3 linked regions of the Homo sapiens genome follow. The protein of the gene in region 1 interacts with the protein of each later gene in a biochemical or structural test. Each region holds a gene or a part of one and is shown in the gene's direction. Other genes may lie near its edges.

Region 1 (3,655 bases):
GATGTTTTGATACAGGCATATAATGCATGATAATCACATCATGGAAGATGGGGTATACATCCCTTCAAGCATTTATCTTTTGTGTTACAATCTATACTCTGTTAGTTATTTTAAAGTGTACAATTAAATTATTGGCTACAGTCACCCTGTTGTGCTGTAAAATATTAGACCTTATTCATTCTAACTACTTTTTGTACTATTAACCATCCTCACCTTCCCCCAATCCCCCACTACCTTTCCCAGCCTCTGGTAACCATCCTTCTACTCTCTGTCTCTATGGGTTCAATTGTTTTGATTTTTAGATCCCACAGATAAGAACATGTGATGTTTGTCTTTCTTTGCCTGGGTTCTTTCACTTAACATAATACCTCCAGTTCTATCCATGTTGTCTCAAGTGACTGAATCGCATTTTTTTTATGGCTGAATAGTACTCCACTGTGTATAAGTCAAGCATAAAGAATTTTAAGCATACCGGAATAATACAGGAAGTTCCCCCATTGTACTCATTCCTCAGTTTCAGCCATTATCAAGTAATGACCAATCTTGTTTCATTCATACTCACTCTCTTTCTTCATTCTATATTATTTTGAAGCAAATCCTATATTAGTTTTATATGTAAATATCTTAGTATATATTTCCAGTAAAGGTTTTTAAAACATAAACACAGCGCCCATAATGATTAATTCAAAGGGTCTTAAATTCTTAAATAGGTCTACATAATTTTCTTTGTGTAAATGTTCTGTTATTGATTATGTTGGTTTAATTTTTCTTCTAGCTGTTTAAAAAAATAGAAGGGAACATCTTTGTGTTTATAACTTTTCTCATATTTTAGTTTAAGAAATTTGTAGAATTTCTAGATCAAAAGGCCATATTACAGTGACACCAGAGTGTGAGAACCAGGGTTACTGTGCTGGCTAGCAGTAGATGTCATAGTTTAATAAACTTTTTGCTGATTTAAGAGGCAAATACTTGTTCTGGTTAGGGAAAAGGTGATATTAGTGGGGCAGAAGCATTCTTTTAACGATATATATTTATTATCTTCTGTAACGGATTTTCTGTGTTACATTGTGTGTTGTGATTTTAAACATTTTTGTAGGTCAAGGGGTCTAGCCTTTTCATAAACTTTCTTTTTTTGAGAAATGTAATATACAGAAAAGTATGTAACACAAGTAAGTATATAGTCTAACATCACTAAAACCAATACTCATGTAACCACTACACAGATTGAGAACTAAAACATTATGGCATCCCAGAAACCCTCCTACCCCATGAATTTTGTCTCTGTCAAAACCTCTTTCCTTCTCCCCAGAGGTAGCTACTGTCCTGCTTTTTATGGATATCACTTTTTTTTTGCTCTTTTATTTATTTTTTAAATTTTTATTTATTTATTTTGAGATGAACTCTTGTTCTGTCACCCAGGCTAGAGTGCAGTCATGCAATTCGGCTCACTGCAACCTCCACCTCCAGGTTCAAGCCATTCTCCTGCCTCAGCCTCCCGAGTAGCTGGGATTATAGGCACCCGCCACCATGCCTGGCTAATTTTTGTATTGTTAGTAGAGATAGGGTTTCACCATGTTATCCAGGCTGGTCTTGAACTCTTGGCCTCAAGTGATCTCTGCCCCATCGGCTCCCAAAATGCTGGGATTACAGGCATGAGCCACCATGCCTGGCCCTTTTAAAGTGATGAATACATCCCTAAACAGTCTAGTAATCTGGCTTTACTTGTTTTTTTTTTTTTTTTTTTTTTTTGAGACGGAGTCTCGCTCTGTCACCCAGGCTGGAGTGCAGTGGCGCGACTTGGCTCACTGCAACCTCTGCCTCCCGGGTTCACACCATTCTGCCTCAGCCTCCCAAGTAGCTGGGACTATAGGCGCCCGCCACCACGCCCGGCTAATTTTTGTATTTTTAGTAGAGACGGGGTTTCACTATGTTGGTCAGGCTGGTCTCGAACTCCTGACCTCTTGATCTGCCCGCCTCGGCCTCCCAAAGTGCTGGGATTACAGGCGTGATCTACCGTGCCTGGCCCTCATTTTCTTTTTACCTAGCTTTATAAATACTTGTTTAAAACAATTTAACATTTGGACTGATTGTGTAAAGACCACTTTTAAGTGTTGTTACTGTTTTTTGTTGTGTTTTTTTTGGCCACCAAAACATTGGGTAATTGTTGTCTTAGACAATCTCTGTAGTTTTGGTTTAACCAGTGTACCTATCAGTTGTTTGCTGAAGCTTCTTGTCCATAGCATAATGTGATACCTTCACATTACATTTTCTATAGACAATATATATATATTTTTTTAAATTTTTGAGACGGGGTCTCACTCTGTGGCCTGGGCTGGAGTGCAGTGGCACTCTCATGGCCCACTGCAGCCCTGACCTCCCAGACTTAGGTGATTCTCCCATCTCAGCCTCCCGTGTAGCTGGGACTACAGGTGGACACAACCACGCCCAGCCAATTTTTCTATTTTTCGTAGAGACGCGGTTTCACCATGTTGCCCAGGCTGGCCTTGACCTCCTGGGCTCAAGTGATCTGCCCATCTTGGCCTCCCAAAGTGCTGGGATTATAGGCATGAGCCACCATGCCCGGCTGAAAATAATTTCATAAATACTTCAAAACTGGCTTTTTAAGAAGACACTCAGTGAAGACACTTAGTGTATCACTGGTTTTTATGTTCTAAGCATAATGAAATATATGTAAACAAATATTTATCTTTGTGACAAGTTCATTAGAGTGACATGGCAAAACATTTGAGTTTTTAAGTTTTTGAATTATCCAATCTTCATGTGATCTGTTTTGATAACTCCTCATTGCATTGGAAAGTATTTTATTGCTTGGCAGCATTTTGAAAAGTAATTAGGGTACATAGCTTTTACAAGTTGTTTTCTTTTAAAAAAATTTTAAGCATCAATCATACTTCATTTTAGGTTATTTTTTTTTTTTCCGTAAGATCTGGGTTTCTTTTTTGTCATTCTAAGTAACTTTGTTGAAAGTAAGATTGTTGAAAGTTTTATTGCTTCAAATTCTAGTTTAAAGTTCATAAACAGCTTATTGAGATACAGATAAATCTTTCTTTTAAATATGTCGAACCTATTTCCACCCTGGGGTCTTTGCTTTCGCTTCCTCTTTGAAATCTGTTCAGTCTTCACATAGATAAAAGGTTATTCAGGTCCCATCTTTTCAGATGGGATGTCCCCTACCATCCAGTCTGAAGTGTTCTTCCCAATCATCTGCTGTTCCATACCCTGTTTTATTTTCTTCACAGTGTTCATTGTTATCTGAGTTATTTCATTTGTTTGCTTATTTGTCTGCCCCTGCACCTCTGTGAGAACAGGGACTGTAGCTGTTTTGTTTTCTACTGTGTATGCAGTGCCTAGAAAGATCCCTAGATACTCTGTAGATATCTGTTAAATGAGTTAAAACAGGAAAGCCAAATAATTTTTATGTATTTGGGCTTGATGTAATAATTGTTGTTTACAAATAAAAATTAGAAATACTTGATCAGTTGTCTTTGTAAACCAGAGTAGCACCTCTTTTTTCCCAGTGATTTAAAATTATATATTATTGTTCAAATGAGTACACTAAATACATCTCCAAAGTTAAAATTGTGGTAGTTAACATGACCTGACTTCACTAAAAATACCTTTTGCTATGGCATAG
Region 2 (2,478 bases), on another chromosome or scaffold:
GTCCATTTGTTGAGGCTGTTTATTCAGTAAGGTGACTGACAGCCTTTACTGAATGAAGCCATTGTTGGGATGAGGCAATCCACTGGATGAGGTAACCCATTGGGTGAAGATGTTCTTGGGTGAGAATTCCATTAGTTGACATTGTCCATTAAGTAAAAGTGGTCATTGAAGTAAGGCTGCACAGTTGGGTAAGGCTATCCATTAGACAATTAGATGAGACTACCCATTGGGTCAGGATGTCTGCTGGGCTAGACCATCCTCTGAAACCTCCAAAGTATAAACTTGTCATTGGGCAAAGCTCTTCAAAGGATAAGATTATCAATGGGATGAAGTGATCCACTGAGATAAGATGATATTTTACTGACATTGTTCTCAGGGAAAGTTTTCCATTGAACAAAGATGGCCAATTGGGTCAAATTTGCTCTCCAAACCTGCCATGAGAGTGAGGCCAATTAGTTTCTATTACTCATCTCCTAAATATCCAAGAAATGGTATTTTTTGAGCCAGCTGGTCCGGGGTTTCATCAACTGCTGCTCCTTCTCCCAGGAAAGACTATCCCTGTCACCCATCCCATTGCCGCTGGGGACAGCCAGGCCTGGGCCTTGGTTTGGGAGAAGCAGTCCAAGTCTGCATATCAAATAAATGATGGAGGAGATGGGTGGTAGGACCTTCCAGACCTCATAAAACTTAGGCTTTATGATCTGGGACTCACAGAAGGTTGAGCAATAAAAGACCTTAGGGATTATCTGGTTTAATTAATTCTCTCATTTTATAGAGGAAGAAATTAAGTCAAGGTGGGGCAGGGTGGGAGGGGAGAACTTTCCCGGGCCTCTTCATTTACTCCCACAAAGGCTGGAATTTTGAGCAGCCCCTGTCTGTCTGTTTGTCCTTCCAGCCACCCCTGAGACCCCACAGCCCTCACCGCCAGGTGGCTCAGGGTCTGAGCCCTATAAGCTCCTGCCGGGAGCCGTCGCCACAATCGTCAAGCCCCTCTCTGCCATCCCCCAGCCGACCATCACCAAGCAGGAAGTTATCTAGCAAGCCGCTGGGGCTTGGGGGCTCCACTGGCTCCCCCCAGCCCCCTAAGAGAGCACCTGGTGATCACGTGGTCACGGCAAAGGAAGACGTGATGCCAGGACCAGTCCCAGAGCAGGAATGGGAAGGATGAAGGGCCCGAGAACATGGCCTAAGGGCCACATCCCACTGCCACCCTTGACGCCCTGCTCTGGATAACAAGACTTTGACTTGGGGAGACCTCTACTGCCTTGGACAACTTTTCTCATGTTGAAGCCACTGCCTTCACCTTCACCTTCATCCATGTCCAACCCCCGACTTCATCCCAAAGGACAGCCGCCTGGAGATGACTTGAGGCCTTACTTAAACCCAGCTCCCTTCTTCCCTAGCCTGGTGCTTCTCCTCTCCTAGCCCCTGTCATGGTGTCCAGACAGAGCCCTGTGAGGCTGGGTCCAATTGTGGCACTTGGGGCACCTTGCTCCTCCTTCTGCTGCTGCCCCCACCTCTGCTGCCTCCCTCTGCTGTCACCTTGCTCAGCCATCCCGTCTTCTCCAACACCACCTCTCCAGAGGCCAAGGAGGCCTTGGAAACGATTCCCCCAGTCATTCTGGGAACATGTTGTAAGCACTGACTGGGACCAGGCACCAGGCAGGGTCTAGAAGGCTGTGGTGAGGGAAGACGCCTTTCTCCTCCAACCCAACCTCATCCTCCTTCTTCAGGGACTTGGGTGGGTACTTGGGTGAGGATCCCTGAAGGCCTTCAACCCGAGAAAACAAACCCAGGTTGGCGACTGCAACAGGAACTTGGAGTGGAGAGGAAAAGCATCAGAAAGAGGCAGACCATCCACCAGGCCTTTGAGAAAGGGTAGAATTCTGGCTGGTAGAGCAGGTGAGATGGGACATTCCAAAGAACAGCCTGAGCCAAGGCCTAGTGGTAGTAAGAATCTAGCAAGAATTGAGGAAGAATGGTGTGGGAGAGGGATGATGAAGAGAGAGAGGGCCTGCTGGAGAGCATAGGGTCTGGAACACCAGGCTGAGGTCCTGATCAGCTTCAAGGAGTATGCAGGGAGCTGGGCTTCCAGAAAATGAACACAGCAGTTCTGCAGAGGACGGGAGGCTGGAAGCTGGGAGGTCAGGTGGGGTGGATGATATAATGCGGGTGAGAGTAATGAGGCTTGGGGCTGGAGAGGACAAGATGGGTAAACCCTCACATCAGAGTGACATCCAGGAGGAATAAGCTCCCAGGGCCTGTCTCAAGCTCTTCCTTACTCCCAGGCACTGTCTTAAGGCATCTGACATGCATCATCTCATTTAATCCTCCCTTCCTCCCTATTAACCTAGAGATTGTTTTTGTTTTTTATTCTCCTCCTCCCTCCCCGCCCTCACCCGCCCCACTCCCTCCTAACCTAGAGATTGTTACAGAAGCTGAAATTGCGTTCTAAGAGGTGAAGTGATTTTTTTTCTG
Region 3 (3,655 bases), on another chromosome or scaffold:
CCAGCACATGGGCCAGCTGGAGGGGGAATGGTCCCATCCGATCAGCTTTTTTTTTTTTTTTTTTTGAGATGGAGTCTGACTGTCGCCCGTGCTGGAGTGCAGTGGCGCGATCTTGGCTTACTACAGCCTCCTGGCTTCAAGCGATTCTCCTGCCTCAGCCTCCCAAGTAACTGAGATTACAGGCACGCACCACCACACCCAGCTAATTTTATGTACTTTTAGTAGAGACGAGGTTTCACCATCTTGACCAGGCTAGTCTTGAACTCCTGACTTCAGGTGATCCACCTACCTTGGCCTCCCAAAGTGCTGGGGTTACAGGCGTGAGCCACTGCGCCCAGTCTCATTTTTTGTATTTTTAATGGAGACGGGGTTTCGTCATGTTGACCAGGCTTGTCTTGAATTCCTAACCTCAAGTGATCCACCTGCCTCGGCCTCCCAAAGTGCTGGGATTATAGGCGTGAGCCACCAGGCCCGGCCCCAGTCAGCCTTTTAAAAACTCCCTGTGTTTCATTTCTATTTAAACTTGTACAATTATGCGCTTGTCCTAGAAAACTGGAGTCAACAGCAGAGCAGTCCGGCCGGCGCCCTGCTGCCCGAGTGGGCCGCCTCGGTACACCGGGCCGGTGCTTGCCGCCTTCTCCCTTTGCATGTGTGATTGTAGGAATGTGTGGCTGTGTCCTGGCTGCTATTTTATAACCACCCCCCATACTGTGAGCATCTGCTCACAGCGTTAAATATTCATCGTCAGCAGCATCTCGTGAGGCTCCCTGGCAGCCTTGGGTGGAGCCAACGGCTGGGCCCTTCTTGTTGGGCTCTCGGATCGGGCCCAGGGGCTGCTTTTCGTGCCCGGGCCGGAGGGCCTGGCTGAGCACCTCACCCCAGAACCGGCTCTGCCTGGCAGGGCCCCCGTGGTCACCTGATCTTGCACCTGGCCCCAAAGGTGCATCTGGTTCAGTGGTGCCCTTGCCTTGGTCCCGTGGCCTTGGATGCTGGGCAGCCCACGAAACCATCTCCCCCTTGGGGAACTTCATGCTTCAGTGGCCCAACAAGAAGGAGCAGCAGAGTGATGTAGGGAAACTGAGTCGCTCCTTAGGAGGAGAAGGTTTGGAGAAAAGTGAGGTGGCGGGGGGTGCGGTTTTTAAATGGGGTGCTCAGCGAAGGCTTTCCTTCTGGTGACATTTGTACAAAGACAAATATAGGGCCATGAGGCTGGTCGGGGGAGGAAGGTTCCAGAAGAGGGAATGGCAGGTGCGGAGGCCCTGATGCAGCATGGCTGGTGGGGCCCAAGCAGGAGGCCAGGGTGGTGGCCGTGTGTGCGCCGGGGTGTGTGTGGCCCTGAGCAGGGGTACTGAGGGTCAGGGGTCTCCTGCGGAGCCATCCCAGGGGGCGGGCTCTGGCTGCTGAGACCGGCAGAGCTGGGGGCAGTCGTCTGCACCGGGCGGGATTTGAAAACAGAGCTGACAGGACTGGCTGAGGGAGTGGATGTTTGCAGGACAGCAGAGACGGGGGCTTCATGGATGCCACCTGGGTTTCTGGCCCCAAACAGCTGACCCCGAGGGCAGAAGGGCAGGTTTGAGGGAGACCCCACAGCCCCTTCCCCAGCATAGGGGGGCCGGGTGTTTGGGGGGAACCGTCAGCGGCCCGGGGCCAGTGGCACAGCAGTGAGAGCACAGGGCACCTCCCAGGCCCCCAGCAGAGAAGCACAGCCCGGTCTCCCCCAGAGGGAGGAGCCCTCCCAGGGCAGGGACCCCAGAGTCTTGTTCTTCAATGACTGGGCCCTGTCTGCCCCAGGCATGGGCTGGCAACAATCCCTGGCCAGCTGGGTGGCTCCCTTGCTGCCTGCTGGGGACCCACCCTTCTCCCCTACCTCCTTCTGAGACACTGAGGGGTGGGGTGTCTGTGTTTTCACCTCCGACCCAGCCTGGAAGCTCAAGGCCCAGCTCAGGTGTAGGCTCCCGTGCAGCCTCCCTGCCCCTGAACCATTGCTCCCCTGGCACTCAGGGCAGACCTGGGCGCGTCTGCAGGTGGCCTGTGTGCCCCCCTCCCAATTAGGCGGCCTTCCTCAAGGGCCCAGCCGGGACTCCACAGCCCATCACCTCTGCAGAGACTGGCTGTGCCCTGAGCATATAAACGGGAACCGGCTGTGGCAGCCCCCTCTTCCTGAGGGCCAGCCACAGACCCGGCACCGGTCCCCGAAGAAACAGGTCAACATGGGCGGGACGTGCAGGCTGAGGCCACAGAGGCCCTGGCAGGGCTGGGAGCCGAGCCCAGGGAGTCTGGCTTTTTTCTTTTTTTTTTTTTTGAAATGGAGTCTCGCTGTCGCCCGGGCTGGAGTGCAGCGGCAGGATCTCAGCTCACTGCAAGCTCCGCCTCCCAGGTTCACGCCATTCTCCTGCCTCAGCCTCCCGAGTAGCTGGGACCACAGGCGCCTGCCACCACGCCCGGCTAATTTTTTGTATTTTTAGTAGAGACGGGGTTTCACCATGTTAGCCAGGATGGTCTCTATCTCCTGACCTCATGATCCGACTGCCTCGGCCTCCCAAAGTGCTGGGATTACAGGCGTGAGCCACTGCACCCGGCTTCTCGTGGGTTTTAATTGAGAAAGTTCCAAGACAGTGCTGGTAGTTGAGGTGCGATCCCATGGCTCCGGTTCTTGTAAAGGCCCTGTCGTGGGTGCAGGCCACACCACTGTGTGCACTGCCGTCCTGGGAGCACCTGGGAGCACAGACATAGCCTGCGAAGCTGATGAGCTCCAGCCTTTACCAGGGGCAGTTCGCCATCCCTGTTCTAAAGGGCTTGCCTGTCATCTCGTTGTCTCGTCTCCCGGCCACTGCAAGGCTGCCATTGTGGCCAGATTCTCGCTCCCCCACGCTCTTCCGATATTTTTTACACTTATAAACAAATAGGTGTTTACTCAGATGCCTTCTCTCCATTTTCATTACACAAGTGATAGCAGGACGTGCACGCTGCTCAGCGTTTTTGCTTTGTATCTAAATATATTTTTTAATGTAGACACAGTCTTGCTATGTTGCCCAGGCTGGTCTCGAACTTCTGAGCCCAAGCAGTCCTCTCACCTCAGCCTCCTGAGTAGCGGGAATGACAGCTGCACACCAGCACACCTGGCTCAGGCTTATTTAAAAACTTTTTTTAGAGACAAGGTCTCACTGTGTTGCCTGGGCTGGGCTCCAACTCCTGTGCTACAGCGATCCTCCCACCTTGGCCTCCTGAAGGGTTGGGGTTACAGGCATGAGCCGCTGTGCCCAGCCTGCAAGTTTCTTTGAACGCATGTTTCCATGTATTGAGGGAAAATACTTTGGAGTGGGATTCCTGATTCCTGGGTGATAGGGTAGGTCTGTGCTTACCTTTATAAGGGTAGTTTCCCAGAGTGATGGTACTGTCTTATAACCCCACCAGCAGAGAGTTCTGATTGCTCTACACCTTTGCCATCTCTTAGAGTTGCCAGTCCTTTCATTTTAGCCATGCTAGTGGGTGTGTAGAGAGGTATTTTATTTTATTTTACCTCATTTTATATTATTGATACAGAGCCTCACTCTGTCACCCAGGCTGGAGTGCAGTTACACAATCTCGGCTCACTGCAACCTCCGCCTTCTGGGTTTAAGCGATTCTCCTCAGCCTCCCGAGTAGCTGGGATTAG

The links.
Region 2: the proteins of SMAD4 (region 1) and HNF4A form a complex in vitro, tested with the Homo sapiens proteins (one study listed by BioGRID).
Region 3: the proteins of SMAD4 (region 1) and PIAS4 form a complex in vitro, tested with the Homo sapiens proteins (one study listed by BioGRID).

What each region holds. Positions count from the first base shown.
Region 1 is NC_000018.10:51,061,127-51,064,781, forward strand, and holds part of SMAD4 (mothers against decapentaplegic homolog 4), read left to right. Parts: intron 1-3,655. UniProt on the Homo sapiens protein: In muscle physiology, plays a central role in the balance between atrophy and hypertrophy. When recruited by MSTN, promotes atrophy response via phosphorylated SMAD2/4.
Region 2 is NC_000020.11:44,428,628-44,431,105, forward strand, and holds part of HNF4A (hepatocyte nuclear factor 4-alpha), read left to right. Parts: intron 1-895; coding exon 896-1,038; 3' UTR 1,039-2,478. UniProt on the Homo sapiens protein: Transcriptional regulator which controls the expression of hepatic genes during the transition of endodermal cells to hepatic progenitor cells, facilitating the recruitment of RNA pol II to the promoters of target genes. Activates the transcription of CYP2C38.
Region 3 is NC_000019.10:4,017,635-4,021,289, forward strand, and holds part of PIAS4 (E3 SUMO-protein ligase PIAS4), read left to right. Parts: intron 1-3,655.